Regions from separate parts of the Homo sapiens genome. Here all the other regions are reported to be linked to region 1. The links are microRNA targets in miRTarBase. Many come from high-throughput screens and were not tested one by one. Region 1 holds a microRNA gene; each other region holds the end of a gene's coding sequence.

Region 1 (5,428 bases):
TACCTTTGTTGTAAGCACTTTTTCCAGTACTCACTCTGCCCTCAATTTGTTTTGGTCTGATTTGAAATTCTCTCCCTAGACTTCTGTGGGGCTGTTCTCCATTATCCTCCCAACTCTCTGGCGATTACTTCCTAGCCTCCTTTCCAGCCTCTTTCTGCTTCATTTCTCCCTGCTACATGTGTTATTTCCAGTGTCAGGTTTTGGTGTTTGATTAATTTCACTTTTTGTTTCTCATGGTGGCCTTCCTCTAAATCCATGGCTTTAGCCATCGTTTCCTTGACTGCTGATGACTCGCAAAAGCTTCCTCCCCTCCATGTCTCTCTGCCTAACTCTGGACCCATTTGTACAATTGTCCATTAGAGAGCTTCGCTTGACTGGCCCAAAAGGATGTCTCAAACTCAGCATATTGAAGATAGAATTTATCCTTCCATGCATACACTCATATTTCTTGTCTTGGTAACTCCATCATTCAGTTTTTTTGCCTAAGTTTTATTCACAAAAAGAACAAATTGATAGCAGTTGCATACCTCTTATAGGAAACTTAGACATGGAGGAAGAAGCTGTTCAGATGGGGTCCTGCAGAAGTGCAGGCACTGTGGTAATATTTAAACTTTTCTCAGCTGTTCGAAGGGTTTTGTTTTAACTAATTTTCCTTAGACTTGTTTTAGGTATTTGGCTTTCTAATGGTTATAAGGGATGTGGAATTAAATGTATCTTAATCTGCCACCTGGACCCATTAAAGTAAGCCCCTATGGTGGTTTTTTTTTTTTAATTGCCATGGTTAAAACCATAGTTGCTAGCGAAGGTGACATACTTAAGCTTTTTGAACTCTCTTAAAAGAAAACAGAAATTTAATGATGTGTCTATAATGGCAAACCAGATACCTAGAATTTCCATGTTATTCATAGGGTGAATAACACTGGCGATTGTAGAGATTTGAGAGTTCTTTCAAAACAGGAGAACAAAGGGAATAAGCTACAAAGCAATTTTTTTCTTTGTAGACTTAACTGAATAAAAATTATTTTTATGTCTCAAACATCATATGAACAAATTTAGTTGGCAAATGGCAAGCTAATAATATTTTATAATATAGGATATTAATATACTTAATATTACAAAAGTGCTTCATAATTAGAAAAGACATAAACTAGAAAAATGGGAAAAGGGCATGAATAAGAAATTCAAGAGATACAAATGACCCACACACTTGAACAAATGTTTATTCTTTCTCATAATCAAAGAAGTAGAAATTAAATGAATACTTTGAAGCCAACTTCTGAGAAAGCATAGCAAACAAGAAAGCTAGTGCTCAGCTTTGTGTGGTAACGGCACTCTCGCTCTTAAGAAGGTGTGTTTGCTCCCTGTGGCTGCTCTCAGGCAGGGCCACAAACTTGGTGGCTTAAAACACCACAGATTTCTTCTCTTACATTTGAGAAGTCTGAAATGGGTCTTACTCAGCTGAAATCAAGGTGTTGGCAGGGCTGCAGTCCTTTGTGGAGGCTTGGGGGGATCTTGTTCTCCTGTACGGGGTCCTGTGCTTGGTTCGGGGTCCTGTGCTTGGTCTGGGATCCTGTGCTTGGTTCGAGGTCCTGTGCTGGGTCCAGTGCTCTGCTTTTACCACCTTGAAGTTCATCTGGAAATGGCACTGGCTCGCCCACACCATATAGCTGACTCTGGTTCTCCCTCCTCCTCACTCGCTCTAAACCTGTGTTTTTGGCTGATTTCTAATCTCTCTTTCCTTGGCCCTTCTGCAGCTTGCAGGGCCTTCTGCAGCTCTTGTCTGCCCCAGCCCCGGGGTCTGCCCATCCCAGTGCTGGGCTGTTCTGTTCCTGCCCTGCCTTTCCTCAGCCCTTGGCAACCCTGTTTGTTTTCTCCCTTCCTTAGCAGTGGAGAACATCGTAAGATCAATGCTGACTGCCTTCTGCAGCCAAGCCAGGCCATTTCATTTCAGCCGAGCCAAGTCTGTGTGGAGCAGTTCTTTTATTTTTCTCCTTTTGACTACCTCATGGTTTTCACGGATTTTTGTTCTCTTCACATTCAAGGATTTTTTGCTTTCAGAAAGTTATATTTCTCTGGAAAGAGTGCACCCAATATCCCTTTTGATTTCAAAATCTTAATGTGGAGTCTCTTGACTTGGATTTCTTTGGAAGAAACTGCTGAAGCTGCCATGTCTAAGAAGAAAACTTTGGAGAAAAATTTTCTTCTTAGACATGGCAACGTCAACAGTTTCTAAGCTCTTGATTCCGTCTACCCTGTCTCCATCGTTGCCTCAGTCATCTGCCTTACTTCTCTGCAGGGGTTTCTCCCAGCTTGCAAATGTACTCCAATTCTGAAATAACTAAGTCTATAGCTGTGCAAAGAGAAGTCTGGGCCCCTTGCTTTCTTGTGTTTGACTCCATCCACTCTCCAGAAATGAATCCCACTTCTCACTTAACCACTGACCTCCAAAGCATCGTATCATTTGTGTCAGTTGTCATATTTGTTAACTTTCACATAACTTTTGACATTATTTATACCTTTATAACCAGGAAATAATTTTAACTTTATTGTAGAAATAAACAATGGAGTATAATTTTTCTTGTTGAAGATAAATATCACCTCCTCTTCCTTTAAACATCTCTTCCCTTTGTTTTTGTATTACATTGGTTTCCCCCCTTTTTTTATTTCCTGGGTTGTCGTATTCCCTGTTATTATTTTTACCTTTTTTTTTTTAATGTGGATGTTTCCGGAGTCTGTATTTCTTGCCTTTTCATCTTCTGCCCTTTATTATTCTCAGCCACTGCCATTACTTCAGTTATCCATTCCCATGGTTTCCACATGCTTAGCTTCGGTTGATTCTTGCCATTTTACAGACCATATTTCCAACTACTTCTAGAATGTTTTGTTCCTTCAGCCTCAGTATGCCCAATTTGAACTCATGTTCTCTCTCCCCCTTCTTTCTTCCTTCTTTCTTTCGCTCTCTCTCCCTTCCTTCTTTTCTTTCCCTCCCTCCCTTTCTTCCTTCCCTCACTCGTTCTCTCTTGCTTGCTTGCTTTCTCTCCTCTCTCTCTTTTCTTTCTGCATTCTTCTCCCTCCCTCTCTTCCTTCTCTCCCCCACTCCCCAACTTCCAGGCTAAAGCAGTCCTCCTGAGTAGTTAGGACTACAGACATACACGTGCCACCGCGCCCGGCTCCGTGTTCTCTTTGTTTCCCTGCCTCCTGCTCTTCCACTTATCTTTGCATGGCAGGTGGGTGCACGCAGGCATGCTCTGCATGTCTTCCTCTTGGCCATTCCCCTTCTAGTTATGGTGTGGCTTTATCTACGCGTTCTGGAGCAGAAGCCTAGTCACAAAGCTATTTTTTTAAAACATTCATGATAATTCATTTCCTTTTATGTTTTAAAAATACTAGCTTTCTGTCTTTATTTCCTTACTAACTTACTTGGATGCCAGTAATTAGTTGTTTTAGTGAACACCACAGAGTGATATTTTGAAACTTTGGACTTCATAAAGTTGGATGAGCTCCAGTAGCAAAGAAGGAAGTGTTAACTAGTTTAACTGACAAATAAATGCTTCCCAGCTTGGTGTGCGATTGAGATTTTTGTTGCAAGTTTGTGAATCAATTTAACTGCCCCTGCCCTGGGGACTAAAGTCAGATACGTGCTTGTGGGAATCTTTGTCTTTCCCACACCACCCTGCATTTTAAAACCTCTTGTGTGGGACAGTCCCACCATGTAATAGCTGTTCTTCCTTACTCAGCTACTTTCCCTCCAGAGAGGCCAGTAGAAAATCTAGACTAGTTTTTTATAGTCTATTTTCATGTCACTTATTGAGAGCTACTGTTTTCTGTTAAATTGTCAGTAAATATTTTAATCAAGGAAAAGGGAGGTAATAGGAAGGAGAGAAGAACAAATCCTTAACCCTAGTAGGAACCTAATGAATGGGATTTGTTCTGGATAATTGCAGTAGTCCCCCAGCTAAAGAACCTTTTAAAAATATGTCAGATATACCCAAGAGGATTGAAATCGTATGTTCATACAAAAGCTTGTTCACCTGCAGCCTTCATATGCAATTCCTATGAATGTTCATAGCAGCATTATTCATAATAGCCAAAGTATGGATGCAACCCAAATGTCCATGAAGCAATTAATAGGTAAACAAAATGTGATCTGTTCACACAGTGGAATACTAACTATTCAGCCATAAAAAGGAATGAAGCACTGAGTCCTGCAGCCACACAGATGAACCTCAGATCCATGCTGAGCGAAAGAAGCCAGAAACAGGAGGCCATGTGCTGTGTGACTGTATTTCTAGGAAATCTTGAGTCACCATGGGCAAGATGCTATCACCTTTGTTCAGTGGCCAGAAGCGAGGGCACTAATATTTACCCTTGCCGGGGTCTACTAGATTGAAGCGTTTCCGCTAGGCCATAAACTTCCAACACGGTGACTTGTACATGTAGATATTTGATCAATATATAGCAAATGAATATTGATTTAAACAGAAAAAGGCAAGTGAGAGTGCTTTCTAAACTTAGAGCCCTAAATATATGAGGTTGTGGAATTAATAGATTCTGTTGTGTGTGTTTGAGGGAATTTAAAAATAATTTAGATGTTAAACAGTATATTGTGGAGGTGTTTTGTAACTAATTAATGACGGCACTGAATTGACTTCTAGGCCTTGCAGTATTAAAACATGTGCTAACACCACGAATAAAGGCAACTCACGTTGCTTTTGATTGCATGAAGAATTATTTAGATGCAATTTATGATGTTACGGTGGTTTATGAAGGGAAAGACGATGGAGGGCAGCGAAGAGAGTCACCGACCATGACGGGTAAGTGTGTTCACGCACCTGAAATGCCTGTACACGGTATATACAGTGCACATGTTTATGTAGAATTCAGTTTTACAAAGTAGGTTAAGTGTACTTTTTTCCTTCATTACATTTACCCGGTATATTTTTCAAGATGTTATTAAGATGTAACAGTGGAGATTTCATTAGTCCTGCAAAGTGTGGTATTTCTTGGCTGTCGTGTGAGTCCTGTGGACTCACCAATTATCATTAATCCAGCCTCTTTCTACTCAAAGTTCACACTTAAAAGGAAAGCTCTGTAAAAGGGAGGAAGACGTGAAGAAGGAGCACGCCCGGCAGTACTGAGTGCACGTTATTAGTCAGTGCTGCCCTTTTGCTGTATTTTTCGTAAAATATTTATTAAATTTGGGTGTCATTGTGACAAGAAGAAATGCAGTTAAGTGTGACCTTTTTTTTTCCCCAAACATGTTAGGTTTTAAGAACCTTTGAGCTATTGTCAGATATAACCAGAAAAAAATAGAATTTTAAGTGAGCAGGATAACTTAGTTAAACTAACCAAACATAGTGTTAGCTGTTAGAGAAATGTAAACATGGAAATAGGCAAACAGGGAAGTGTGTGGAGTTTCTGTTTCCTT
Region 2 (5,428 bases), not on the chromosome of region 1:
TCCCAGTAAGTGGTTCAGGGACAAAGTGTGTGATCTGATCATGTCAACCAAGAACTCCACGGATTGTAAAGGGAAAAACTCAGTTCAAACTTCCTTAAGCAAAAAAGGCAACTTACTGGCTCAAAGAATGTGAAGGCTGAGCTACAAATTTAACTGCAGATAGCTCTGGATCCTGTTTCTCAATCATCATCAGGGATTTCCCCACCTCTCATTGTATTCCTTGACTCTGTATGTTTCTACTTTGCTTTGTTTCTTGGCCTTTTCCCCTTCTAGCTACTGGCAGGTTCAAGTCCACCTCTGAACCTGCCACTTCAGAGGGACTATTTTCCTTATTGAGACACAGTGGAAAGTCCCAGGGAGTGGCAGATGTAGGCCAAGTTTGGGTCATGTACACATCCCTGAAGCACTGTGCCCAGGGCAATGATGTTTCATGATTGGCTGAGCCTCAGTAAGGGACCACCTCTGTGCCTGGAGTGCAGGGCACTGTGATTAGCAATGTCCCAAGGACCACAGTGGAGGGAGAGAGGGGCTCCCTAAGGACTCAGGAGATGGGGATTGGATGTTGGGCAAACAAACAAACAAACAAACAAACAAAAAAAACTAGAGTGGCCAGCACAGCCTCCTAGCCTGTCCTGGAAGTGTTTGCTAATGCTGTCTCTTCTTTGCCCCCATACCACGGGGTTAGGATGCCCATGATGCCACTGAGTACTTCCTTCTGGCCCTGGCAGCAGCGGTCCTGCTGGGTGATGAGGAGCTTCAGGACACCATTAGGAGCAGGCTGGACAACATCTGCCAGAGCCCCCTGTGGCACAGCAGGCCCTCCGGGTGCTCCTCAGAGAGGGCGCGGTGGCTGAGTGGTGGTGGCCTGGCCCTCTGAGGAAAGCTGTCCTGTCTCTGGACATTTGGCATGGCCAGACTCTGACCCCACTGCCCTAGGCTCTTAAATACTCATTGGGAGGGTCCGAGTCCTTACCTGGCCTAGCCCCCTCATTTCACAAGAAGAAGAATGAAGTCCAGGAGGAGAAGGGCTCATTGCAGGCCACAGAAAGATTTGATGGTGCAGCGATGAGAATTCCTGGTTCCAGGCTTTGCATCTGGAGCCTTTACCGGTTGACTGTTGCCTTCCACACAAACAGCCTCTGAAAAGCACTTTCTCCATACATAATTCTGGAGAAGATGAGGGATCTTGCCCTCCAGGAGCCTTCCTTCCTCCCCCAATGAGGAAATCAGTCACTGCACTGGTGCAAAGGCAAGCAGATTGGAATTTGTGCTCTTCACCGATTTTCTCAGGGAAAGACCCCTTCCCCTTGCCAGCAGAGGAACCTGTAGTTTTTTCCATTTCTTTCTTCAGAACCAAAGTATGTATCACTCCTCATGCTCACAGGGATTGACAGGAGAGAATTCACCAGGATCTTAGCTCAAAAGACACAGCCTCAGAATGGCCAGATGGATTGCACGAAACCTGACTTGGATTCACCATCTTCCTCCTGCCATAAGGCTGTGCTCCCACATAACCTCCCAGAAGCTCCAGGGAAGCTTTCCAAGAGCAAAGGCTTGGAAATTGAATGTTAAGAAAATTATGACATAAATTACATGTAAATAGTGTATATGATTAAATATTGTCCAGTTACATTTACACACACATTTTGTCTCATCCACAATGGGGGCAGATGAGATGGAGGACTTGATGGATGGGAGAGAATACCAATACATGTCTTTTTTTTTTTTTTTTTTTTTTGAGACAGTTTCTCCTCTGTTGCCCAGGCTGGAGTTCAGTGGTACAGTCAGGGCTTCCTGCGACCTCAGACTCCGGGGCTCAAGTGATCCTCCAGTGTCAACCTCCTGAGTAGCTGGAACTACAGGCATGTGCCATACCCAACTACAAGGCATCTTATTGATTTCAGGGCAGCTGCTTTACAAAGCATCTCTATTAATAACATCACTGCATAGCACACTGAGTGGCCTAAAACACTTATAATCTCATGGTTTCTGAAGGGCAGGAATCCAAGCATGACTTAGCTGAGCCCACCAGCTTAGGGTGGTTCACAGGCTGCAATCAGCTGGGGCTGCAGTTATCTCAACTTCAACTAGAGAAGGATGGGCTTCCAAGCTCACCCACACAGCTGTTGTTAGGAGTCAGTTTTTTGCTAGCTGTTGGCCAGAGGCTTCCTGCAGCCACTTGCCACGTGGGCCTCTCCACAGGGCAGTCACAACATGGCACCATGCTTCACTAGAGGGAGCAAACAAGAGGAGCAAGAACCAGAGTGAGCAGGAGAAAAGGGAGTGACTCTTTCTATAACCTGATCACAGAAGTGACATCTCCTTAGTCTTGCCTATTCAATTCATAATAAATGAGTCACTAGGTCTAGCTCCCACAAGAGGGGAGTGTTTACCAACAGCTTGAATACCAGATGGTGAGGAATCATTGGGGATCATTTCAGAAGTGACCTACCACAGTATCTGAGTTCTTTGATAATGAAATTGGGAATTCTCTAATTTCAGCAAACTGAAAATATGGTCCACTAACCAGCAGCATCAGCATCACCTGTGAGATTGTTTGAAATGAAAATCTGTGGCCCCACCTATGATCTCTGAATCAGAATCTCTGGATCCCAGAACGCTGACTCGTCCAAGCTTTCCTGGTGATTTTAATGCACCCTAAAGTATGGGAAGCACCACTGCAGGGCAAGAGCCCTCAGATAGTGTGCATAACTATTACCTGGTGAGGTTGTGGAACATGAACTTCTTGGTTTCTATCTCTAATAATTCTGATTCAGTAGATCTGGGATGTATCCCAGGAACATGCATTTTTAGAAAGCAACTCAAGCAAGCCTGATGCAGGTGGTTCACCCTTGCTCCTTTTCTGTGAACCACAAGGATACCAGCCATAATTCCCTGCATCTGATGCCCATCAGCTTAGCTTTTATTATCAGACCATCTGCCCTTAATTTCTAGCTTCTTGGGCTGACCAGATGATTGGTTGTATGAAAGGGTGAGATGGGAGTGGTGAGTTGAGCCGCCATTGCATCTTCTAGTCATCAAGGTTGTCTACTAATTGGCACACATTTTCTCTTAGAGATGTGGTTGGTTGTCAAAAGGCTGTCTACTCTAGAGAGTATTCTCCAGGAAGGAGAAGCTTCCAGTTGTCTAATTAGTAAAGTTATCTAATCTACTACCATGGAGAATAGATGTGGTTTTGCCCCCACCACAAGCTGTAAAAGCCCCAAGCTGGGAGGGACGTTGCGGTTGAGGCTATTCAGTCTAATCTCCCGTGCATAGTCCTTTCAACAACATTCCTGGGAGACAGTCAGGGGCACACACATTCCAGAACAGTTACATATCGTGTATTTGAAGAAGGCTCACACAGCCCTGGAAACCATGCCACTGGCCATTCCCCATCTGACTCAGGTTACAGATCCCCTCCCTTTTCCCACTGACCACTCACTCTCCTCTGGCCAGATTTGTTTCTGTTTCTCTGAAAGAGCAGTTCCCACAACTGCATGAGGCTTTTGATATTGGCCGGTGGGTGAAGAGTACAGAGGGATGTTACTATACTTAATTTGATTCTTCCTCTCCCCAGCAGCCACATCTGTCCTTGGCTTCCATTGAGCTTTATAATCAGTTGAAACTTCTGTGTCTTCTGACTTGAACTTCTGTTTGGACAGATCTTTCTCAATTGCTGCAAATATGCACATGCATTTGCATATGCATACACATACACACACATACGTGAAGAGCGTTGTTTCTATCCATGTTACATCTCCTTGGAAATTTTAGCTAAAATTTCCCAATTCTGTGCACTTTGATTTACCTATAAATCTGATGAATTTACCCATAACCAGGTCAGTTATAAAAATGTTTAGCATGTTTCCAAAGACAAGGGTAAGACTATTTTTTTAAAATAAGAAAAACATTGTGCTATATAATTGCAATTACTACATTCTATATGTAAACCGCTTGCTAAAACTCTTTTAAAAAGTGTTTAAAATTTTCATTTTTGAAATGTGGGCCAGCTATTCCCTTTGGAAACATGTTGATGCTGTCTTTTTTTCATGATCCACAGAGAGTAAAGTGGTGATTGGATTTGGTCTCTACTTAAACATTTAAAAAAATAAGTGTATCATAGCCAAACATGATCTAGTTACCCTCTTTATTCTAATTGTTCCCTCAAATCTTATATGGGCTGTGTGACTGCTGGCTCCTTACATCTAATCTAAATAAAGAACAAGAAGGGCATTGCAACATTGTGGAAAACCCTGTAACATGTTTTCTCAGCTTTCAGGTATACTAGTTCCCTGTCCAACAGTATTAACATTCTGAAATCCAATATTGCTTTTGTCCTTTTCTTATTTGCTTTTCCATTATTTTAAGATGCCTTTATATTGTGCATGTGTATATATATGTATGTGTGTGTGTGTGTGTTCATTTTCTTCCTCTTTGTAAATATAATGCACCTCATTTGGCAGAAGTTTATTTGGGGAAGGGAATATGCAGGAATGGAGGGTGTTAGGATGAGGGATCAGGAAGCCTATCACTAAAGGGAACCTGTATTTTGGTCTTGATTTTGATATTAAATTGCAGTGCGACCTTGGGCAAGTCACTTAACCTCTACACATCTCAGATATTTGTCCTCTGATAAAAGAACCTCACCTCTGGGTTTTTCAGCAGTGCTATTTTTATACTGTATGAATAGGATGAGAAATAGTATTGGAGAGATGAAATAATATATTTTTATAGCTCAATTATATTATCTTCTTTTTACAGGTGAGTAAACTGAGGAACAGAAGGGTAACTTTCTCCCAGACACATTGGTAGTTAGTGGCAAAGACAGTGGTACTTGAGGCGGGGGTCTCATGACTCAAGGACTTAGTTGCACAAATGACAGGATTTCTGCTGTTCAGGGCTTCCTTCACAGTTGTGTGTGTATATGTACACGTGTGTGTATGTATGCATGCATTTATCACGATATGCACCAAAGAGCCTTTACAAAACATTTTCTAAATTGATTTACTTCTTTTACTCATATTAACTTATTTTTATAAGGGATGACTAGTCTATATAGAAGAAAAACTTGTATTGTTTTCCATAAACAGAATTATGTAAATAATGGCAAATACAATGAAAATAAAATAATGCATTAACTTCAAGCTAGGTCCTGTTGCTCATTGCAAGCACCCAGCCTAGGCCTTATCTGGCATTGTTTGAAAACAGAGAGATTAATAAGTGGCAGAGAGTGTAGATGACAGACTAGCAACAACCACTTTTTCCTTGCACACTCAGAGAAATGGAGTAAGCAGGGAAGAGGACTGAGCTCCTTCTGAGGAGGGTCAGTGTCATTCAATGCCAGGTTTGGGCACACATTTCAGGGAAGTGGGGATTCAGCTGGGTGACAGGAAAGGGGCAAATGATATATTATGTAATATGATTC
Region 3 (5,428 bases), not on the chromosome of region 1:
TTTCCTATCTTTACAACATTTGTTTTAGGAGCATTTCCTCCCTCTGCTATTTATACACGGAAAGACTTACTACAGCGATCTACCCATATTGCCACCAAGACTTTCCAGGCTCTTCGCATATTTGTGAACAATGAGCTCAATGAACTCTACACGGGACTGAAGACAGCTCAGAAGTTTCTGAGACCTGGTGGTCGTCTTGTTGCCCTCTCCTTCCATTCACTAGAGGATCGCATCGTCAAAAGATTTTTGCTTGGAATAAGCATGACAGAAAGATTTAACCTAAGTGTTAGACAACAAGTGATGAAAACATCTCAATTGGGTTCAGATCACGAAAACACGGAAGAAGTCTCTATGAGAAGAGCTCCTTTAATGTGGGAATTGATACACAAGAAGGTACTTAGTCCACAAGATCAGGATGTACAAGATAACCCCAGAGGGCGCTCAGCCAAGCTTAGAGCAGCTATCAAATTATAAGTTATCATCATCTTATTCTTCAAATTTTTTTCTCACAATTTCTCTAATCTTTACTCATGTTATGTCCCTGAATGTCTTGGTATAGGTTTAAGTGTGGGACAGTCTGAAAATTGATAGCATTTAGCATTTCTTTTTTCTCAAAAAGAAACTGTAGGAAATACATGACAGAGAAAGTTACACTCAGGGAGCAGCAGCACCTCCAGACTGGAAAAATATGTTAATCTTTGCATCATATTGGACTCTTGAAGGCAATCCTTCCTCTGGCCAGGAAATTTTTTAAAAAATAATACTGTGTTGTGTTTATCTAAATACGTAAACTCAAGCTACCAAAGAGAAAGATGTTGTAATCATATCTGCATGTCCTAAATTTTGAATTTAGATATTCCAATTTGCATCAGTCTTTCTGTGGCTCAAATAATGATGATTATGGAATGAATTTTAATGTCCCTACTTGTGAATAATTAGCTTTCTCAAATGTAGGCTTTTTACAAATTTTAAATTTTAAAATATTAGTTTAAATGTGTGTTATACTGATAAAATTTCATCTTTCAAATTATAGTCTATTATTTTAAAGGGATTTTTCAGTATGATATGGGCCATTTTGTTCATCTATCGCAAAGTAAAAATGTAAAATCCTTACAGAGAATTGTTTCACAAAACTTATATTTCATGTCAATTGTATTTATTTTAATAATAGCTCACAATGCCTTTAGTAAGTAATAAAGTCTCTTATTAGAATCTTGTATTTTTTAATTGAGCTAATCAAAATAATTCAGCCAAGTCTATTTGAAATAGAAAACTGTCTATTTAATATAGTAAAATCAATGCTCCCTTAATGTTGTTACAAAGATATGGTAACTGTAATATGGGTAAAAGTTTATTCAAGAAAAGAGTACTTGGTAGAAGATTCTTTAACAAATTGAGGAGATTGATTCATAATTCACATGTCAATTTTTTATAGTAATATGTACTTCTAATTTATTATTTATACTTAAATTGTGACCTGAAAGATGAGTTGGAGATAATTAGTCAAAGGGCACATGGAGTATGGAAGGGGGCATGTTGATTAACCATACATAGAAATAAATATTCTCTTAGTTATCCTTGAAATCATATTTATACTATTAATTTGCTCAGTGCACTTTTTTCAAATACAGAAAAAAGATTCTCCATTATAGTTACAAATTTTAGGTTGGTGAATCCAAGTGAATGAAATATCAGCATAACTATGTGGGCAAAATAGATAGAATTAAATGCATGAATTTTCCTCAGACTTATTTTATCTGCCTCTGTAATATTTAACTTTAGTACCCAGGCTTGTTCACTACTTCTGCTTTACAGGCTTTATTTAAATCTGAACAATCCTACAGGGAAATCAGAATTAGGAAAAAAATCTGGAGAACAATATGGTTGAAATAGAAACAAGAGAATGCACCTAGGTTAATTCCCTGAATCCTACTTGAACATTGTATAAATTTCTCTTTGCATATAATACATATTTGTGAATGAGACATATTCCCAAAAAATTCTTATCTCTGTATGTGATTGGAAAAGAAAAGATCACATTTGTATATTCAACAATCTTTCACCTATTTCATAAGTCATTTTTTCACCCTGTATAGTATGGGAATTATTTTTTATGTTAAATAGAAACTGAATGTACTGGGTTGAATGGTGTCCTCTCCAAAATTCATGTACTTCCTGGAGCCTCAGTATGTGACCTTATTTGGAAATACTGTGGTTGTGGTTGTAAGTAGCTAAGATGAGGTCATACTGGAGCAGGGCAGGCCCTTAATCCAATATGACTGGTGTTCCTTATAAGAGAAGATAGGGCGGGCATGGTGGCTCACGCCTGTAATCCCAGCACTGTGGGAGGCCAAGCCAGGCAAATCGCTTGAGGCTGAGGAGTTCAAGACCAGCCTGGCCAACATGGCGAAAACCCATCTCTACTAAAAATAAAATTAGCCATGCGTGGTGCTTGTAATGTCAGCTACCCAGGAGTCTGAGGCACAAGAATCACTCGAACCTGGGAGGTGGAGGTTGCGAGATCACACCACTGCACTCCAGTGTGAGCAACAGAACGAGACTCTGTCTCAAAAAAAAAAAAAAAAAGGAAGAAAGAGAAGATAGAGACACAGGGGAGAATGCCACATGAAGCTGGAGGCAGAGATTGGAGTGATACATTGTGGGAACCCTCAGAAGATAGGAAAAAAGCATGGAATAGATTCTCCCTCAGAGTTCCAGTAGTTGCCAACCCTGCTAACATGGTTTTGCACATCTAGCATCCAGAACAGTGAGAATGTATTTCTGCTGTTTTAAGGTACCCAGTTCATGGTAATTTGTTACAGCAATCCTAGGAAGCTAATACTCTGACAGAAAAAAATCTTGGATAATATGCATGAGAAAAATCCTTCAATAAACACAAAATTGGTTTCAAAATGTTTTCATGTAAAAATAAATTAACTTTTCTGTAATTAGATTGTGTTTTATAGTAATTCTTGCCTGCTTCTTAGTCTTTGTTGTAGGATGCATAATAAAATACATGAATGAGTTTTAAATGGTTAGCTTTGGAGAATGGTTTTGGGAAGTTCCTACAGTACACAGAAATAAAAGCTAATGTTACTATGAATGCGCATTACTTTTCTAATAAAATGTTTCTGAATCTCTGTCTTGACTGCCTTCTATGAATCATTTTAACATAGTATCAATGTCATTGTGTAGTACATCAGTTCTTAACAGTTTTTAGTTCATTACTTAAATAAAATTTAATAACTACAATTTTTAGATAATATCCCTATTTTTATTTTATTTTTAAAATTGTATATTAATTACTATGTTCTTTGAAGTTTCTAGGGGTGTTCTTGAAAGACACTATATCTATATGTCTTTTCTATTTCATGTAGTATATGATATATTATTTGTGCTTAAATTCATTGTAGTAAACTATTTGTTGTGCTACAAGCAGTAGTTTATAAGAGAATACAGTATGCCTAATTAGATTTTTTAAATGAACTAATATTTCTTAAAATTCACTTGCAAATATTTGAAAATCATATTTTCTTAAGTCTTTGCAGAGTATTACATACCTAAGGTTTTTAAAATTTTTGTTTCTAATTTTTGTTTTTAAGAAGTAGAGATAATGAATCTGTACTGCAGACTTTTAAAAAATAATTTTACTTTCATTTGAAATCTGTCATTCAAAAAGTATGAGACAGTTCTTAATGGGACTTAATGGCTAAAAAAAGAGAAAAATATATGTATATATGTACTCAAGCGTATATTAGAAGCTAACTGTTTAGGAAGAAATAAAAAAATACCTTTTTCACCACTCTCCCTCTTTTTATATACCATCCCTTCTTCTCTGTTCACATTGGTATGTAAATTTGAGGTGACATTAATTATGTTTCAATTTATCTCTGGAAAAAGAAATATTAGGTAATTTTGGCACATACCATGACAAACTAAGCCTTACATATTAGAATCTTTTTAATAGATTAAAAACTAAATTAAAAATTGCTTCTGGTTAAAATTTTGTAAAATTTATTTTACTGCAATTATTTTTCTATTTAGTTTTCATAATTGCTTCAGTATCCTAATTGATATTTTTGTGTAGCAGCATTCTATAATAGACAGGGATAAGCATTTAAACATAAAGAGAATTTTGTGAGGTGCTTGATAAATATAAATTTGAAACTCTGATCAAAGATATATTTTTCTCATAACCACAATGCCATATGTTTGATGTTGATTGAAGTATGGTTTGTAAAAATCAACCCTATATTCTAAAGAGGCTGGGTTGTATAACAAACACAGCTATTTTTATATTATTTTCTCAAATCTTATCTGTTTATAGCTACTATATCCAACTAATGTTTGGTAACACAGGATGATCTGCAGGAATGCTAAGAGAAAGTTTACATATAAATTATTTTTTTAAAGTCTAGTTGCAGCATAAAATTTTAAAAACATTTAAAATGAAGAATTGTACAACATACAATGGTCATAATTTATAATGCTTGTCACTGACTTTTTGGCCACCTCACTTCCTTCTCATAATCTGCCCAAATTATTAGGCAACAAAGTAAAGAAAATTTAATATTTCAATATGCACAGCAGGAGATTGTGTCTTTGGTAATGTTACTTTAAATACTGAACAAGTTTTCTACTATTAGCTGTTGTCCTATTAAATATATCATTGCTCAAATGTTAGAATACAAAGGTGAAATCAAACAAGAGGACATGCTCCACTTGATTCTTGAATAATTATTTCTGTTCGTTAAACCCCATCTTTATGCTTTGAGCAATAACACTTGTCTGCCTTGCACAGGTGAAGATTTGTATTATTAAGCCATCAAATGATAGGATTCCTCATAATTTCACAAGGAAAAGTCTTATTATTCAAGTCTTATAGGTGCTAAGTTGAGGAGAAGACCGTATAGTATTGTGAATAACGCTATTGGCTGGGGACTCAGAAAACCGAGGGTTTGAATTCCGGATCTACATGTAATAACTGAATGTATGAACTTGGACATCCTATTTAATCTCTTGAATTCTCATTTGTTTCATTTTAAGATGTGGATATTATTGGTACTTTCTCATGTTGCTGTGAATCAAATAGAAGATAAATGTTTATGAACTGAAAGTTCTAAGAATGAAATGAGATAATGCACTGCTGTATTTTGGAGATGCTTTATTTGACCCCTCCAAATCTCATGTTGAAATTTAACCTCCAATGTTAGAGGTGGTACCTAATAAATGATGTCCGGGTCATGGGAGAGAGTCCCTCATGAATGGCTTAATGCTGTCCTCATAGTAACAATTGTTTTTGCTGTATCAATTCCCAGAGAGCTGGTTGTTAAAAAGAGCCTGGTTCCTCCCTCTTCTCTCTTGCTCCCTCTCTTGCCTTGTGATTACACACCAGCTCCCCTTTGCCTTCGACCATAAGAGGATCCAC
Region 4 (5,000 bases), not on the chromosome of region 1:
CAGGTGACATGCTGATCATTGAAGAAGACCAAACCAGGCCCAGAAGTTCACCTGCATTTACTAAACGTGGTGCTTCTAGTTACGTCAGGGAAACTTTGCCTGTGCTTACCAGAACCGTGGTCCCAGCAGACAACTCTTGCCTCTTTACTAGTGTGTACTATGTCGTCGAAGGAGGAGTCTTGAATCCAGCTTGTGCCCCTGAGATGAGACGCCTCATAGCACAAATTGTAGCAAGCGATCCAGACTTCTATAGTGAGGCAATACTGGGAAAAACAAATCAAGAGTACTGTGACTGGATCAAAAGGGATGACACTTGGGGAGGAGCAATAGAGATATCGATTTTGTCCAAGTTTTACCAATGTGAAATATGTGTAGTGGATACACAGACAGTAAGAATTGATCGTTTTGGGGAAGATGCAGGATATACCAAAAGGGTTCTGCTTATTTATGATGGCATCCACTATGATCCACTTCAGCGTAACTTCCCTGATCCAGATACACCTCCTCTGACCATTTTCTCCTCTAATGATGATATTGTTCTTGTACAAGCACTGGAATTAGCAGATGAAGCTAGAAGAAGGAGACAGTTTACTGATGTCAACCGCTTCACCCTGAGATGCATGGTATGTCAGAAAGGATTAACTGGACAAGCAGAAGCAAGGGAACATGCCAAGGAGACAGGCCATACCAACTTTGGAGAAGTGTGACCTATGCATGAATGAGGGTTGAAGCCTACTACCTCACACATCCAGAAGGCTCTGGGTTTTCCAATAAGCTATGGTAACCCTAAAGAACAAAGGATACAATGCTTGAACCATCCTTTTAACTTAAAACCACTAAGACACTGAAATTCCTTGTTAAGATTAAAATTAGTGTGCAAGTTTACAGATGTGTGTCTACAGTGGTAAACTGTACATACATGCCTCTTTCTGCTGGAGTGACAGAATAGGTGATCCTTGCCACCTACTGACACTGACCTGAAGGTTGAGATTGAGTATTATAAACTAGCACCCAGCAGCTTTAACTTGTAGAAGAAAGCATCACATTTTGGGTAATGTGGAAGGCCTCCTGTGAGTCCACTGGGCATACGATTGAGATTGAGTATTATAAACTAGCACCCAGCAGCTTTAACTTGTAGAAGAAAGCATCACATTTTGGGTAATGTGGAAGGCCTCCTGTGAGTCCACTGGACATTTACCACAGTGTCTCCAGTAACTGAGTCTTTTTAAAAACTCTGAATGAGTTAAGTTTCTAAATTATGAATTGATTCATCAAATGAAGATACTCAGAATTGTCCAAACTGATTTTATATTGCAATTTGGTAGACATTATAAATGTGTGCTTAACCACTGATAAGTACATCACAAGCAATTTTTACAGGGATGAGTCTCATCCTTGAGAATGTTATCACAAAACAGGAACTGATTGTGCCCTGTTTAAGATCTCTAGCATATAAAACGTAGAATGTATGAGGGAATAGGTGCCTGAGCAGCTTCCTGAAGCTTTAAAAGACCGTTGGCCTCGTGTTTTAATGCAATTCATGTATTGGTCTTTGTCACATTGGATAACATTTTAAAGTTAAGCAGGGTACTTTTTTAATTGAAATTCCTTGAAATTCGAGTCCTCAGTTTTTTCTTCATTTGCGTAAAGTTTATCGGGGGGAATTTAATTTTCTCAGCTTTTTGTTAAGAGCACTTCCTCCAAAAAATTTTTTTCAAGTAATAATGCTCTGCTTTGGGTTGGTTTTTGTAAGATTTTTTGCACACCTAAAGAGTGTTTGCTTTTGTGCTAGCCTTATCCCTCCACTAAAGTTATTTTAAATAATTTCACATTTCTGCAAATTAGCACTTTGCTTATCTGCAATCTTTTACTTTGATTTTTGAAGTTTTAAAGCAATTGGAGTAATACTGTTGAATGAACTAGTTTCACTTCCAAAATAGAAAAAATTGTAAATCCTTGCCTTATGCAGCTTTCTCAGAATTCTGCTTCTTCCTAGTACTAGATGTGTAGCCATTTGCTTAGTGGACTAATCCGCAAGGCACACCCTCTAAAACTTAGCTTCACTACAAGATCTTCCAGATAAAAGTTTTCTACCTCTTTTCTTAATTATTCTGATCAGGGATGCTAAATTATAATTTGTTATGTATTATCTCACATAATGTGAAGAGGCTTAATGTGAAGTTTTGTTATTTTGGTCTCTTTTTTATTAAGTATCTCACTTAGAAATTCAGTGGTATACTTTAAAGCACTTGGATCTTTTTCAGCATATCTGCCTAGCAAATGTTTTAAAATTGACATTTATTTTTAGCACTTTCACTTGGTGAAGGTGGCCATATAAAATTAAGGAACATTTGAACAATATAAGAGAAAAGAACTTTTAAGGAACAATTCACAAAGTTTGTTTGAAATTGTCAGATGACATTTCTTGAGTACCTTTTGTGTGCATAGTTATTTTAGACAATATAAGCTGTTATGGTCAGCATAACTTAAAAGTGTTTAGTTTTCTATTTTACTGAGCCTTAAAAATAGCACTGATGAGCTTATGATACTTAATGTTTGGCAATCATAATGTGTTCAAATTAATGGGATTGAAAATCTCTCCACACCTGACTCTCATCTGATCTGGATGGTTTTGGTTTTGTATCTTTTTTACTTCTCCCAGAAAATACTAAATTTAAAACTGTAAATTAAGAATATACCACTAGATAACAATTATCAAATTGAGCTTTATGCATCATTACTCAGAAAGCTTGCCTTCCTTTCTTTGCTACTTCAGGACACAGAGTTGACATTTGCTTACTACAGCTTTAGATCTAGAAGTTTATTCGTGCAACAAATATTTATTGAGTAATTTATACTGTGCCAGGCATGTTTTGATATGTTTCTGTCATATGTTTTGATATGTTCCAACATAAGTTTCTGTCACTTTATATTCAGTATATATTTTCTACAGTGGGTAAATTTAACAAATGGAAAGGAATAGAACACTGATATTTTACAGAATTAAACCCCTTCATTGTAAGGGCTTTGTTTACATATTAAGTGTCAAGTATTTATTCAGGGGATCTTATTTCATTGTATTTTATCTGTTATCTAGGTTGTCCATTTACCGGTTGGACACTGATACTCTGTCAAATTCCTTTCAAAAATGACTCTTTAGTCTGCTGAAATTTAGCACTAGTACTTTAGTGTTCTGATCCTGGAAAATTCAAGGTGAAGCTTTATTTGTGGACCATCTGATTTAATTATTGAGGATTAAAAACCTAAACCTTTGCTCATTCTAAACTCAAGCTTTTAAGCCTCACAGAATTTACAGGGGTTTGCTTTTTGTTTGTTTGTTTTTTCATTTTTTACTGTGCTTATTAAACTCTTGGAATTAGTTATTAAAGGGAGTAAATTCTCATCTTGGGAATTTTGAAAATCTATGGACTTACAACTTTCAGGAGGATTAAATGTCTTAAGTTTTGTACTAGAGCAGAATGAAATCTTTCCTATTCATTGAGTTTTTGCCTGCCATAGAGGAATTTTTTTAAAAATTAAAATGACAGTTTATATTAGTGGCAAAGTGAATAAAGACCTCACTTTCCCACCCCACCCTTCTTCCTTTCTCTTACTTTTCTTTGGATTAAAGGTCAGGTGTAGTACTATGAAGATTCACTCCTGAATAAAGTGATTTCAGAAGCTAAAATTTAACATACCTGGAAATTTTGTGATGTGTTAGCCAAGTGAAGACATTAGTGTGTTCCATCTTTTGCTAATGGTTCATGGTTGATTTCTTCATTGTTTCCCATGAAATTAGCATAGTCAAGTGGTACCCTTGACGCTTGACTGCTGGTCAGTTTGACCCTGTTTTTAACAACTAATGTAGTCATGCCGCTTGATTATTCCATGAAGTCCCAGCAAAATAATAATGAGGAATTAACTAACATTATGTTATCTATCTAATTTGTCTGTGTCCCTAAATGCCCATGCCTAACTTGCTTCTCTAGTTTATTCCTTCTGTGGAGGGATTAAAACGTGGGTGTTGCAAGTTGCCCTAAGCTAAACATAGTTTTCTTACATCTTTTTGGGAAAAAAAATGGAATGGGAAGTATGCAAGATTAAGCAAGAGTGATTTTTTTTTTTTTTTGACAAATCAGGTGGCCTTCCTAAACATACTAAGAATTATGTTCTTTCATGTGTGGAGACACATTTGTTTGCAGCACTTTAAAAAATATATATGGAATAAAAGTTTACATGTTGGCCCTCTAGGGATCTAATTAAGGACATTAAAGTACAATTCTTGAGCTACTAACCATCAGCTCTTCTTAATCAAAGATTGCCATCAGTGTAGAGTGTATCTATTGGCACAACATTCTGGTGTTTTGATAACAGTAGAACTCAATTTCAGTAACTATTAGGAGCATGGTCTGTGCCCTAGCATTAAAAATGTTACTTATTATTATGTGAATATCTTGTATTATTATACAATGCAGTATTCAAATTTGTCCTTGTAGTGCAGAGATGACTGATAATTTCTAAAAGATTCGATCCTTAAAACTTGTTTCCAAGCAGACTTATAAGGAAGCTGATTTTTGAGTCAGAGGCCTTAAACGTGTCATATACAAGTGGCATCATTTTAAGTCCAAAGTGAAACACTTGATTTGAATAAGCTAGTTTATAAACTAAAGCTGTTTTCTTATGTTACAGTATTTCAGCACATTTCATTCCACATAAAAAGAATATTAAGTGTCCCTGGTTGTGGGAGAGTGTTTATTTTTCTCAAAATTATCTAGCATTTTGCTTACAGTGCTTTGAATGTTTGACTTAAAATTATTATTGATGTTGAATTGTAGGGTGCTGATTTAGGTCTTGATTCATACACATTTAAAGGAGGTTGGTAACCCCCTCATGGTAGAGTGAAGGGAGAAAAGGGCCAAGAAGACAAAGTACCACTGATAAAGAAGAGATTGTCAAATAGATGCATTCCTAGTCATGAATTACCCTTTTCCAAACATTTT
Region 5 (5,428 bases), not on the chromosome of region 1:
TCTGAGTGTATATTCTTAGCTTGTACTAATGAATAATTATGTAATATTCTAATTATATCAGCCGGCTGCTGCAAATTGGAATTCTTAGTATGGTTTGATAAACGAGACACAGACCAAAGAAATTAAGTAAAAATTCTGTAGCCCTGAGTATCAGTATAACTTCATGTTGTATTTTGTATTAAAACAACAACAAATAATACCAATGTTAGTCCACAGAAAGGCCTAGAAACCTAAAAACCCAGTCTCACCATTCCTAGTGCTCTGATCACAATCTCCAAATGCCATTTTCCAGTAAAGATGAAACAAGCCTCTTTGGAGAAATTGTTGTTTTCAAGTCATGCAGGAAATACACAAGATGAGCCTTAGAACATCTTGTTATATCACTTAGCAAGGATGCTACCAATGACAACGAGGGTCATGCAAATAGACTCAGGAGCCAAATGAAAGAGGCTCTCGCTGGCCAAAAATGGGACAATTTGAGCATTCATAAGAGAAATAGCTTCAGTGGACTGAAGTACATCAAATATGTTTAAATGCATGAATTGCTAATGACATACACATTAATTATTCACTATTGGAGGATGTTAATAAACAGCTCATTATTTTGAAGACCAAGGAGTTAGGCATTTATTCTTAACTTCCCCCAAAAAGTAGATGAGAGGAAGTTCCTATTTAGAGGTATTTTAGATCATAAATGAAGGAATACTACAATTAGAATACCATCACTTTTAATATCTCATTAATTAATAGATCAAAAGCTGCTCGCATTACAGAGACAACCAATAGTATGAAAAAACCAGCATGCTATCACCAAAATCCAAACTAAGAAAAACTCTACAAGGTAAACAACACAACTTCTTCAACAAATATATTGTAAGAGGGCAGAGAGATGCTGATGAACCAATAGGTGAGTGAACCCCAAACCTGCAGCTTCAGCATCACCTGGGAATTTGTTAGAGATGCAAATTCCCAGACTCCACAGCAGACTTACAGATCACCAGCTCTGGGGTGGGGCCCAGCAGTTTGTGTTCTAACAAGGCTCTAGTGATTCTGATACACTCTAGTTTGAGGACCACAACAATTGAAGAAATTTAGGATGTGTATCAGCTAACTGCAATATTCAGTACCTTACTTGGTTCCTGATTCCAAAAAACTGCAAAAATTTTTGACATCTATAGACAACACATTATATTAAGGAATTGTCCATTTTCTTAGGTGTAAAAATGGTATTCAGATTACACATATTTTTTAAAGTCCTGAAATATTTACAGATAAATGATAAGATTTGCTTCAAAATAATACAGAAAGGGCAGAAGCAGGTGGGGTTACAGATGACACAAATTAGCTAGGAGCTGATAATTGTCGAAGGTGGAGGATGGGTTACCTAGGTGTTCTTTATTCTCTCTTTCTCTCTCTCTCTCTCTCTCTCTCTCTCTCTCTCTCTCTATATATATATATATATATATATAAAATAGTGTATATACATAATAGTATATTTTTGAGATTTTTCATTCTAAAATTTTTTAAAAACTCAAACTAGAATAAATTAAAAGACTGACTTAAGCAGAATTAATCTAAAAAAAGAGAAAGTATATAGTACTTTTACTTAAAGGGCAGTATTGAAATACATAAAATAAGTATAAATAGTCTGAAAAAAACCTACTCCATCCTAGTTTGTGGCAAAATGCTTTTGTTTTAGAAGGGGGATCTAGAAGCTCTATCAATTGTCTGATGTAATTTTAAGTAACTGGCCCCATTGGAGAGAATGACTTACCTGGGAAGAGAAAGGCCCAGTCTGGTCAAGGACATATGAATATCTACACACATTTGCTTTCCAATTTCCAAACTAGCTTAGCTTTTAGAATGTAACCTGTTAATAAACTCAGGTTTACTGTCATTTTTAAAAGTTTACTACTTTAGCATATTATGATTGCAACCTGAGTAGACTAATGCAGATATTAGTAATGGCTGTTTTTCTTCCCTAGACAGGAGACAATCCATCTTACATAGGGAAAATAACCAAATTATGTGTTATGAGAGATGTTCAGAGGCCTGTCTTGAAATGTCATCTCCAATGATCTGGTGATGCTGTGGACCTAGAGTGTCATCCAAATAACTAGTCTTGAAATTTCTTCAGGACAAGAAATTTTAAAAAACTAATTGTGAGGCTGCAGTAGCCCTTAATAACTCCTTGAATTTAATTCTTGTGATAGTTTTATTTCCTCTGTAATATATCTTTGTTATTGTGCTTTTAAGAATAGAGTGAATATACATAAGCAGAACATATTTGGAAAAAAATTTAAAAAAATTTTAATGAATAGGGTGAATAGATGTAATCTCTCCTTTTTAACTTCTCCCTCTTATTTATTCCTTACCATGGAAACATAATTTGTATATGAAAACCTGGTCCATAAGAAGTCTGATTAGAAAGCACCAACTTCAAAGCCTCAGGGTATGAGTGATAGAGTGTGCTATATATTCTCACTTTAAAAAGGTGATGGCAGAATTTTGAGGATGGTTTCATGTTTTATTTTAGCCATTTCATATTTGTCATTATTGTTATCATGGGCATCATTTTCTTCATTATCATTCGAATTATTATTTTGCTTAGAGTGGTCAATGATATGGAGAAAAGACCATTAAAAGTCATTACCATCCATTATCAGACATCCTTCTGATAAAACTAGTCTCAGAATAGGGACTTCTGTTCCCTTTCATCTGCTTTTATTGAGCTCCTGCTGTGTTTCCACCCACGTTGACTACTTTGTAATAAGGAGAACAAAAAAAAAGACAAAGTCCAACTTTAGAGAGCTCACACACTCTAGTTGAGGAGATGGGATGAGAAGAGAATCACCACATACCCATGAGGAGGCTGTAATATAGAGCTTGACAGCCTGGACTATTAGGCTTTACACTGGTTGAATTCAAATCCTGACTGCCACTCAATAGCTCTGTGATGCAGAGCAAGTTACTAACCTCCCCTGCCCCAGTTTCCTCATCTGTTAAATGAAGGTAAGAACAGTAATTACCTTGTAGGGCTGTCTTGGGATAATCCTTAAATTAGATAATCCATAAAACACTCAAATTTATCCATATATTCATCCATATATTTTATTTCTCTGTTGACCATTGTTTCTTGTATGCCATACCTTCACCTTGGGCAGATCCTCTTTTTTGTCCTTGGAATATAACCTTTAATAATTCAACTCTCTTAGTTTTGTATGTCTAAACATGTCTTTATTTTGCCTCCAATATTGTACATAAAATTCTAAGTTGATACTTATTTTCCTCAGCACTTTGAAGATACTTTTCTACTGTCTTCTGGACTTTATGGTGCTGATAAGAAAGAAGTTTGCTGTTGGTTTAACAATGATTACCTTGAAAATTATGTGTTTTTTCTCACTGGTAGAATACTCACATTTAAGTAGACATTTGATGAATGTGCATATTTATTGATAAGACTCCACACAGGACTCCTAATTCCATAGATTATGCGGGGAGGATCATGGTACAAACATCCTTCTCCCTTATGAAGGGGCATGGCAGAAAATGAAGGCTATTGTGACTAAAAGGAAGCTCTGCGAGATTAACAACATATAACTATAACCTTGTCTCCAAGGGAGATCTAAGAGTGCCCCCACAAGAATCTGAGAGACTGTAATAGGATATGAAGAGAACAGCTGAGGACCCTCATTTTTATTTATTTATTTATATTTAATTTTTTTTCAGACATCAGTGTTACTTGCCAAGACCCTCATTTTTAAACTCCAACGAGTTATTACGTTCCTTTCCACTCTTGCTTTCCAATTCCTACACCAAGACAACTCTGTATTTTGAGTATATGAGTCAAGTATGGCAAAAAGTACAGTACCTTAAAAACTTTTATTTTAGTCCTTCCTGGCCCATGCTAAAACTTATATCTAGAAATACGGCAAAACAAAATGAAACAGATCTCTCCTTGTACATAAAACAGCTAAAAATTTGGCCTCTTTATTGATCTTATGTCATGTATTTGGCTTGAAAAAAAAACAACAACAAAACAAACAGTTACAAGGGTTAAACAAACTAAATTTTTCTTCTAAATCTCTAAATGCTCATAGACAGCCAACTTGCAGGGCATACACAGTGCCTTGAGAGTCGGTCCCACAGAAAATACTTATGTAAATGAAACAAGAAGGATGCTATTTGTTTTTCATTACATAAACATTACCTGAACTTAACTAATCAATCCACTTATTTGATAAAAATCATCTAGGACCAAAAGCACTATCAAGTTTGCTGGCTGCCATTTTCACTCTAATCATACCCAAAAGGCTTAGAAATAATTCAAAACTAGAAAGAGGCCCAAGTAGTAAGGCTACCTATGGCTCTTGCTACAAAACAGTTGCCAGTCTGATGTGTGTGTGTCTAGAAAGAATGATAGAAAATAAAGAGTTCTTGAGTTCAAGAGAACTTCCCAGAAGGAGGTGGTGGGCCAAGAAATCCACCTGCCTGCTTGGTGGCGGCTCGTGAAGGGGCAAGGCCGAGAATCTTCTGAATGTTCTGTGAAGAAAGCACAGTAAGGATTGGGTTTTAATATCAAATATACAGAAGATGTGTTTTATGTAGCTCTCAGGCAAAGGGAACTCATACTCATATAGATTAAAGGAACCATTATGACCTGCAATAGGATGATTATCACTTTTTTTTTTTTTTGAGATGGAGTCTCGCTCTGTCACCCAGGCTGGAGTGCAGTGGAGCAATCTTGGCTCACTGCAAGCTCTGCCTCCCAGGTTCACGTCATTCTCCTGCCTCAGCCTCCCGAGTAGCTGGGACTACAGGTGCCCGCCACCACACCCGGCTAATTTTCTGTATATTTAGTAGAGACAGGGTTTCATCATGTTAGCCAGGATGGTCTCGATCTCCTGACCTCATGATCTGCCCACCTCGGCCTCCCAAAGTGCTGGGATTACAGGAGGGAGTCACCGCACCTGGCAATCACTATGTTATTTTTTAAAAAGGCCTACAATGTAATGAAAATCATAGAACAGTAAAAGCCTTCCTTACCTGATGAGACCTTGGTCTACTAATGAAAGTGGTTGATTTTTTTCGAGTAGAGAATCATAAAAGGAGATAATTTTTTTAACAAGAAGCATATGAAGAATATTCATTAGCTATTTCTTATGGGCATTTTCTTTGAGTACGGGTCTGCTGGCTGGATTTGTCATTACTGCACTGTCTATAATTTTCAGTTTCGGCCGGGTGTGGTGGCTCACGCCTGTAATCCCAGCACTTTGGGAGGCTGAGGTGGGTAGATCACTTGAGGCTAGGAGTTCAAGACGAGCTTGGACAACATGGTAAAACCCCATCTCTACTTTTTAGTAGAAAAATACAAAAATTAGCTGGGCATTGTGGCATACACCTGTAGTCCTAGCTACTCGGGAGGGTG
Region 6 (5,428 bases), not on the chromosome of region 1:
CACCCGGGACCGCCCGTCGCCCCAGCTGCTCCCGAAACCGGGGGCGCCCGCGCGCCGCACGCGGAACTCGCCTCCTCCTGCCGCCGCTTCAGGCCCTCGCGCCGCCGGCTCCGGCCCTGCAGCTCCGTTACCAGGTCCGCGCTCTCGGCCAGCAGCCGGCCCTCCTCGGCGCTGCGCTCCGCCGCCGCCTTCCTCAGGATGCGCGACACCTGCGGGCAGGCGGACGGTGAGCGGCGGCGCGGGCCGGGCATGGCCGGGCCGGGGAGCGGCGGCGGCGTACCTGGCGGAGGCGCTCCCTCTGCTGCTCCTCCCGCAACCTCCGGACCCGCTCCGCCGCTTTGCGCTCGGAGCGGCTCAGACCCCCGGCTGCCATCGCTCCCCTGGAGACCTGCTCTTCCGCTTCCGCCTCACACGGCAGGCCGCGCTCAGGGCGCATGCGCAAGATGGGCCCCGCCCCCACCCACCCCTTCCGGCTCCGCCCGCCGCGTCGCCCCAAAGAAGCACCTGCCAGTCTCTTTAAAAGGTTTATTGATCATATACAAAATAAAGAAAACCTTATATATCACAAACATACACTATGTACAGCAATAAATACCCGGGGGGCCAGGCCCAGTGCTGCCCCTCCTGGACAATAATTTAGCAATAAATACTGCGCAGGGCAGGGGTAGGGCACCAAGGCCACTGCCCTGCAAGAGGTCAGGCCCCTGCCCGCCCTACACGAAGTGTGAGCGCTCGGGCCTCACCCCGCATCCAAACCCCAGCCCCTCCTCACTTAGATCTTTAATAACCTCCATCCCACCCCAGCAGATCCCGGGGTCTTCTCCCACACACACAACCTCCCCTGGCTAGACCTAGGCAGGGCAGGCAGGGACTGATCAACTCTGCTTGGACCCACCTCTCAGCGCCAGGAGAGCAACAGGGCTGGACACGCGGGCAGCCCTTGTCCTGTTGCCAGGAGAAGGCTTTCTGTGCCCACTCCCGTTTGGTTAAAGGCTTCAGGGACTAGCAGATTGAGGGGGTGGGAAGAAGGGCAGGGCTGGGACACAAGGTTGCTGGAGGGGCCAAAGCCCAACTGGGGTCACCAAGAACAGGGAGGTCTCACAGTTTATCGGGGACACACTCTAGCTCAGACTCAAGGGACACCCATGGTATCAAAGCTGCTGCTCCAGGGGCAGGGTGGAAATGTGTGGGACTGGCCCAGCAGGTATGGTACACACCCAGGACACAGGCCAGAGGCAGGACAGGCATTAGTCTCTCAGACACGCCCTGCCTCTGTGTGGCACTGATTATGTACTCTACTCTCCCGACCTGCTCCAAGGCCAGACAGCCAACAGGAAGGCAAAAATACACCAAAAAGAATTATTCAGTGGCTTCTGGGGGAAAAATCGTTAATGTGTTGGTTCCTTTCACCAAACCACAGCCTAAAAAAGTAACTCACAAGATCCCAGAGCGGAAACGGTGCAGCAGGCTGCGGCTCCGACTTTCCAGATGTGGATGGGCGCTTTGGCCAAGTGGCCACTCCAGAGGGAGGCAGCAGGGACAACATGGGACCTGACCATCGTCCCAAAGCAGGCTGCAGCCGCTCAGGGCCGTGGGCCGGGCCCTGATCACCAGTCAGAAGTGTACACACATATCTGAAACATGCACCAAGAGCTGAGCCAGCAACACCAGTGCCACCCCGAGCAGCAGCCAGGGGCCTCACTCTCCTGGTGAGAGCTGACCTGTCCCTGCTGGGTATTCCTCTGAAATCTGAGCGTCCATGTTAGGATAAAAGAGGAGTTGGGGCAAAGTTAAGGTGGAAGGGAAGACATATATCATGGTTTACTTGGCGGACAAGTTTGAGAGACCTGGCCTTGGCCAAAGCCCTCGATTCGCTGTGTCAGAAAAACTGAGGTGAGAAGAGACCACCACCCTCTCCACCACCCTCTCAGTAGGAAAGCGGGATCAACAGAGATCAGAAGGACAGCACACTCACACCTGCACATGAACACACCATCTATGTCAGGAAATCCAGGGGAAGGGGAAGAGGGGTGGAGTGGCTCCGCAGGGCTGACCTGACAGGGGACAGGAACACTCCCCTAGACCCAGGGAAGTCGCCCCAAATCCAAAGCTCTTGAAAGGAGGTATGGCCTCGAAACTCCAGAAGCCTCTTCTGCCAACGCACCGAGGACCTGCACCTCCCATTCAGCACGCGTCGACCCTTACACCCTCCTCTTCCACACTCCCTTCGCCTCCAGGTCTGCAGCCTGGCAGAGGTGCTCAAAATGGATGGCCACCCACAGCCAGGACAAAAGTGGGGGCTGCACAAGGACAAGGAGGGCCTGTTTCTCCCCACTCCGAGGCAGATCATGACGTTTTCTTCATGGATACTTATGATATGATTCCAACTAACGCCTGGATTCTACTTAGACAAGATCAGACTGAGGGGAGGGGGATGAAGTCACTAAATGACAAGAGTCAACAGCCAATATTTCCATTTTCAGGCTGACGCAGGTAGACACAGGACTTGTCTCTGAACACCTCGAGCAAAGAAAAGCTCATTAACATGACAAGTGTTGATGGTGCCTCCCTGTTCCCATCCTGTGGGCACACCAGGCCAAACTATTGGATAAAAATCCCACCATCCATAGGGTTAAGCCCTGTTGGGCCACAGTTTTTCATCTTACCCACATCTGTGTGCTTTACAGAAGTCTGGGCCCCACAGAAAAGAAACCAGCAACCCGGTGAAAGGCCAGGGCTCACATGGCCAGACACAGGGCTGTAGCCTCTTGGAGGTGGGTAGGGGCACCCCCTCCCCATCATATGCCTACAAGGAGCCTCCTGAGCCCAGCCAGGAAGGGCAGCAGCCTCTGGCGAGGAACTGAGAGCAGGAGGCAGGCTGCGCCCCCACAGGGAGGCACCTCCAGCAGAAGCCAAGCAGCTGATCCCTGGAAGACACAGATCCCAAAGGGAGGCAGAAGGCAGGCCCGAAGCCAAGAGCTGCCAGCGTGGACCAGCGGAGAAGAGGGACAAGACCCGGCCCTGGAGACTGTAGCCCTTGTCTGCACTGGTGGAGACCCCCAAGGCTCTCAGAGTGAGGCAGGGACAAGGAAGAAAGGGCGGTGCCCGGTGGGCCCCCACCCACTCTGCCTGGAAGCACCACCCGCAGCATGGAAACACCTCAGGGATCAAGCGGGCGGCGAGACCTGCAGCCCACGGCGCGGGCAGCCTATAGGAACAAAGCTGAGGCCAGAGGAAGACGGCCAGGGAACGCTTGGCCATAGCCCTGTGGCCACCCACAGTGACTCCCTCATCCCTGTAATGCCACCACCCAAGGCCAGAGGTGGTGGGTGTGGAAGCAGCGTGGGGCGCCCCAAGGGACCCCAGTTTCACCTACCCCGCCACTAGATCAGCCCAAGCCCTAGACACAGATGTAGCCAAGGCTCAGTGGAGGGGGGCATGACAGAACCCCATGTCTCACCTCCTACGGACCAGGAGCTGGTGGTGGGCACAGATTCCTTGAGCTCTGACGCAGCAGGCGCCACTTGGCACCCCAGCCCAGGTCCAGCAAGCCAGCAGAAGCAAAAGCACAACTAAACCCAAAAAACGAACACGGGAAAACAGACACAAGAAGTGACACCCACAGGTCAAAGGTCACCAGAAGCACCAGCACTTTACCGCTGCACAAAACCTCACCAGGCACGGACGACACCACGGCACCGGCAAGAGACGGAAGCAGGAAGGGCAGAGGAGTAAGTCACTTTCGGTACAATTGCAAAAGATATCAAAGAGGACGGCCTTCTGGTCGGCTCACGGCTTGGCTTTTTTTTTTTTGTCTTTTTTTTAAACTAAGTTTTATAAATAATGTCTGATAACTCTGTGTATATAAAAACTAAACTCCAACAGCCACAAAGAGGTGTCCGTAAGTTTACAAGAAAGGGATTTTTTTTCTTTTTTTTTCTTTTTTTTTTAACTAGCAAAGTTTCTATTATACTTTCTTCCCTTTTCCATTCATATGGTCAAATGGTCTTCTTGCTTGTTTTTTTTCTAAAAGACAGTTTTATAAATACTCTGCAGCTCTTTTTTCTTTAACTTTTAAACATATAATTAATTTAATAACTTTGTAAAAGGAACTTCTCTCTTTTAAATAAAGGGCTATATAACCACACAAATAGGTCATGTAAACAGTGACACGGGACCCATCGCAGGGCACACTGGACCCACCCTCACGTTAAGCGCACAACCAGAGATTTGGTCTTGTTCAGTGCAACGGGTCAGGCCTGAGTGCACAGCCCCTGGGCCCAGCTGCACGCCCCCAGCACCACTGCGCCCAGGCTGGTGGTCCACCCATCAGGGCCTTCAAGCCCGCCCTACTCTCAGAGCAGAGCCCATCTCTTCATGCTGGGCTAAGCTGAGCTGCTCCCCTGGGGCTAAAGAGAGTGAATCCTTCCCAGCCCGCGAGCCTGTGGCCACTCGGGAGTGGAGGGAACACTGGGACCCTCACTGCTCGGGGACACGCGAGGCCCAGCGTGCCTGCTCCTTCTCTCTCCCGCAACTCTCTCTAGTCCGTTCCCACAGCACCAACTCTGGACTCCAAGCCTGCATGGCCCTGGTACAAAAGGGGTTGGGGCGACCCCACGTCACCGCCGAACTGACCAATCCCAACATACAAAACACACGACGACAATGACGAGATCAAAGGGGCTCAGCCCGGCGCCCCTGGGGTACAGGTTGTGCTTTGCAGGGAAGAGAGAAGGGTGGGGAAGAGAGGGAGGAAAGAGAAGAGAAGGAAACAGAGGGACAGGGCAGCCAAATTCGCCATGTGCCTAGTGGCCCCGCAAAGACCCGCCTGGGCAGACGCGCGTCCCTACGATCGGGCATCCGTCTTGGACTTTACTATTGTGATGACGCTGGTGGCGGCCACCTTGCCTGGGACGAGGGGCCCCAGGCCGGCGGCAAGGGGGCCCCGGGCTGGCGCCACGGGGCTGCGGGCCACCGTCCGGGCGAAGGTCTGCAGCGCCTCGTACTTGGAGCGCAGCGCGTCGAGCTCCAGCTTCATGCTGGCGTTCTCTGAGGCCAGCTTCTCCACCTCCTGCTGCAGCTCCGCCTTCTGCTTCTCCAGCTCCTCCTTCTGCGTCACCCGCTTCACGCGGCAGCTGGCAGCGTAGCCGCGGTTCTTGAGCGTGCGCCGGCGCTGCTTCAGCTGGACGATCTCCTCCTTGGACAGGCCCCGCAGGTGCTGGTTCAGCTCCCGCACCGACATGGTCACCAGCTCCTCATCCGTCAGGCTGGTGCCATTCTCACCCGGCTCCCGCTTCACCTGGGGCACAGTGCAGGTGGTCACAGGCCAAGCGGGCACGCCCACTGTGCCCCCCGACCCCAGCCCACAGGCTCCTGTCCCTGCCCACTCACCTTCAAGGCCTTGTTTCCTTTATTGGGGGTCGTCATA

What was found. Region 1 holds the annotated microRNA hsa-miR-4659a-3p (UUUCUUCUUAGACAUGGCAACG, at 2,198-2,219, shown strand). A microRNA usually pairs through its seed, bases 2 to 8, with sites in the 3' UTR of a target mRNA and lowers its output. Matches are read on the target gene's strand: a 7mer-m8 pairs with bases 2 to 8, a 7mer-A1 pairs with bases 2 to 7 and ends in A, and an 8mer does both.
Region 2: the mRNA of SH3TC2 is a reported target of hsa-miR-4659a-3p. Seed matches in the 3' UTR shown: 7mer-m8 at 998-1,004, 7mer-m8 at 1,001-1,007 and 8mer at 5,061-5,068.
Region 3: miRTarBase lists METTL15 as a target of hsa-miR-4659a-3p. Seed matches in the 3' UTR shown: 7mer-A1 at 2,588-2,594.
Region 4: miRTarBase lists YOD1 as a target of hsa-miR-4659a-3p. Seed matches in the 3' UTR shown: 8mer at 1,030-1,037 and 8mer at 1,137-1,144.
Region 5: the mRNA of TMCO1 is a reported target of hsa-miR-4659a-3p. Seed matches in the 3' UTR shown: 8mer at 4,073-4,080.
Region 6: miRTarBase lists MAFG as a target of hsa-miR-4659a-3p. Seed matches in the 3' UTR shown: 7mer-A1 at 3,974-3,980 and 7mer-A1 at 2,356-2,362.

The regions. Positions count from the first base shown.
Region 1 is chr8:6,743,015-6,748,442 of GRCh38, forward strand. MIR4659A (microRNA 4659a) reads left to right here and starts at 2,150; the gene lies at 2,150-2,230. AGPAT5 (1-acylglycerol-3-phosphate O-acyltransferase 5) reads left to right here. Exons shown (of 8, transcript NM_018361.5): 6 at 4,656-4,814. It overlaps MIR4659B (microRNA 4659b), which reads right to left and starts at 2,226; the gene lies at 2,154-2,226. RefSeq lists enhancers at 1,441-1,720, 1,751-1,830, 3,443-3,492, 4,094-4,388, 5,311-5,428 and a silencer at 3,253-3,302.
Region 2 is chr5:149,000,160-149,005,587 of GRCh38, reverse strand. SH3TC2 (SH3 domain and tetratricopeptide repeats 2) reads left to right here. Exons shown (of 17, transcript NM_024577.4): 17 at 686-5,428. The coding sequence ends at 877. Among named protein-coding and RNA genes, the nearest start is that of MIR584, 60 kb to the left of the region's middle.
Region 3 is chr11:28,330,368-28,335,795 of GRCh38, forward strand. It overlaps METTL15 (methyltransferase 15, mitochondrial 12S rRNA N4-cytidine), which reads left to right. Exons shown (of 7, transcript NM_001113528.2): 7 at 29-3,140. The coding sequence ends at 474. Among named protein-coding and RNA genes, the nearest start is that of MIR8068, 140 kb to the right of the region's middle.
Region 4 is chr1:207,044,727-207,049,726 of GRCh38, reverse strand. YOD1 (YOD1 deubiquitinase) reads left to right here. Exons shown (of 2, transcript NM_018566.4): 2 at 4-5,000. The coding sequence ends at 707. It also overlaps a transcript of PFKFB2 not described here. Among named protein-coding and RNA genes, the nearest start is that of YOD1, 4.0 kb to the left of the region's middle.
Region 5 is chr1:165,723,580-165,729,007 of GRCh38, forward strand. It overlaps TMCO1 (transmembrane and coiled-coil domains 1), which reads right to left. Exons shown (of 7, transcript NM_019026.6): 7 at 3,216-4,542. The coding sequence ends at 4,444. Among named protein-coding and RNA genes, the nearest start is that of ALDH9A1, 28 kb to the left of the region's middle.
Region 6 is chr17:81,917,759-81,923,186 of GRCh38, forward strand. MAFG (MAF bZIP transcription factor G) reads right to left here. Exons shown (of 3, transcript NM_002359.4): 2 at 5,392-5,428; 3 at 512-5,299. The coding sequence starts at 5,427. The coding sequence ends at 4,847. It overlaps SIRT7 (sirtuin 7), which reads right to left and starts at 418. Exons shown (of 10, transcript NM_016538.3): 1 at 281-418; 2 at 72-209. The coding sequence starts at 373. MAFG-AS1 (MAFG antisense RNA 1) reads left to right here and starts at 5,141. Exons shown (of 3, transcript NR_186500.1): 1 at 5,141-5,428. RefSeq lists enhancers at 1-499, 618-667, 5,151-5,428 and a silencer at 18-487.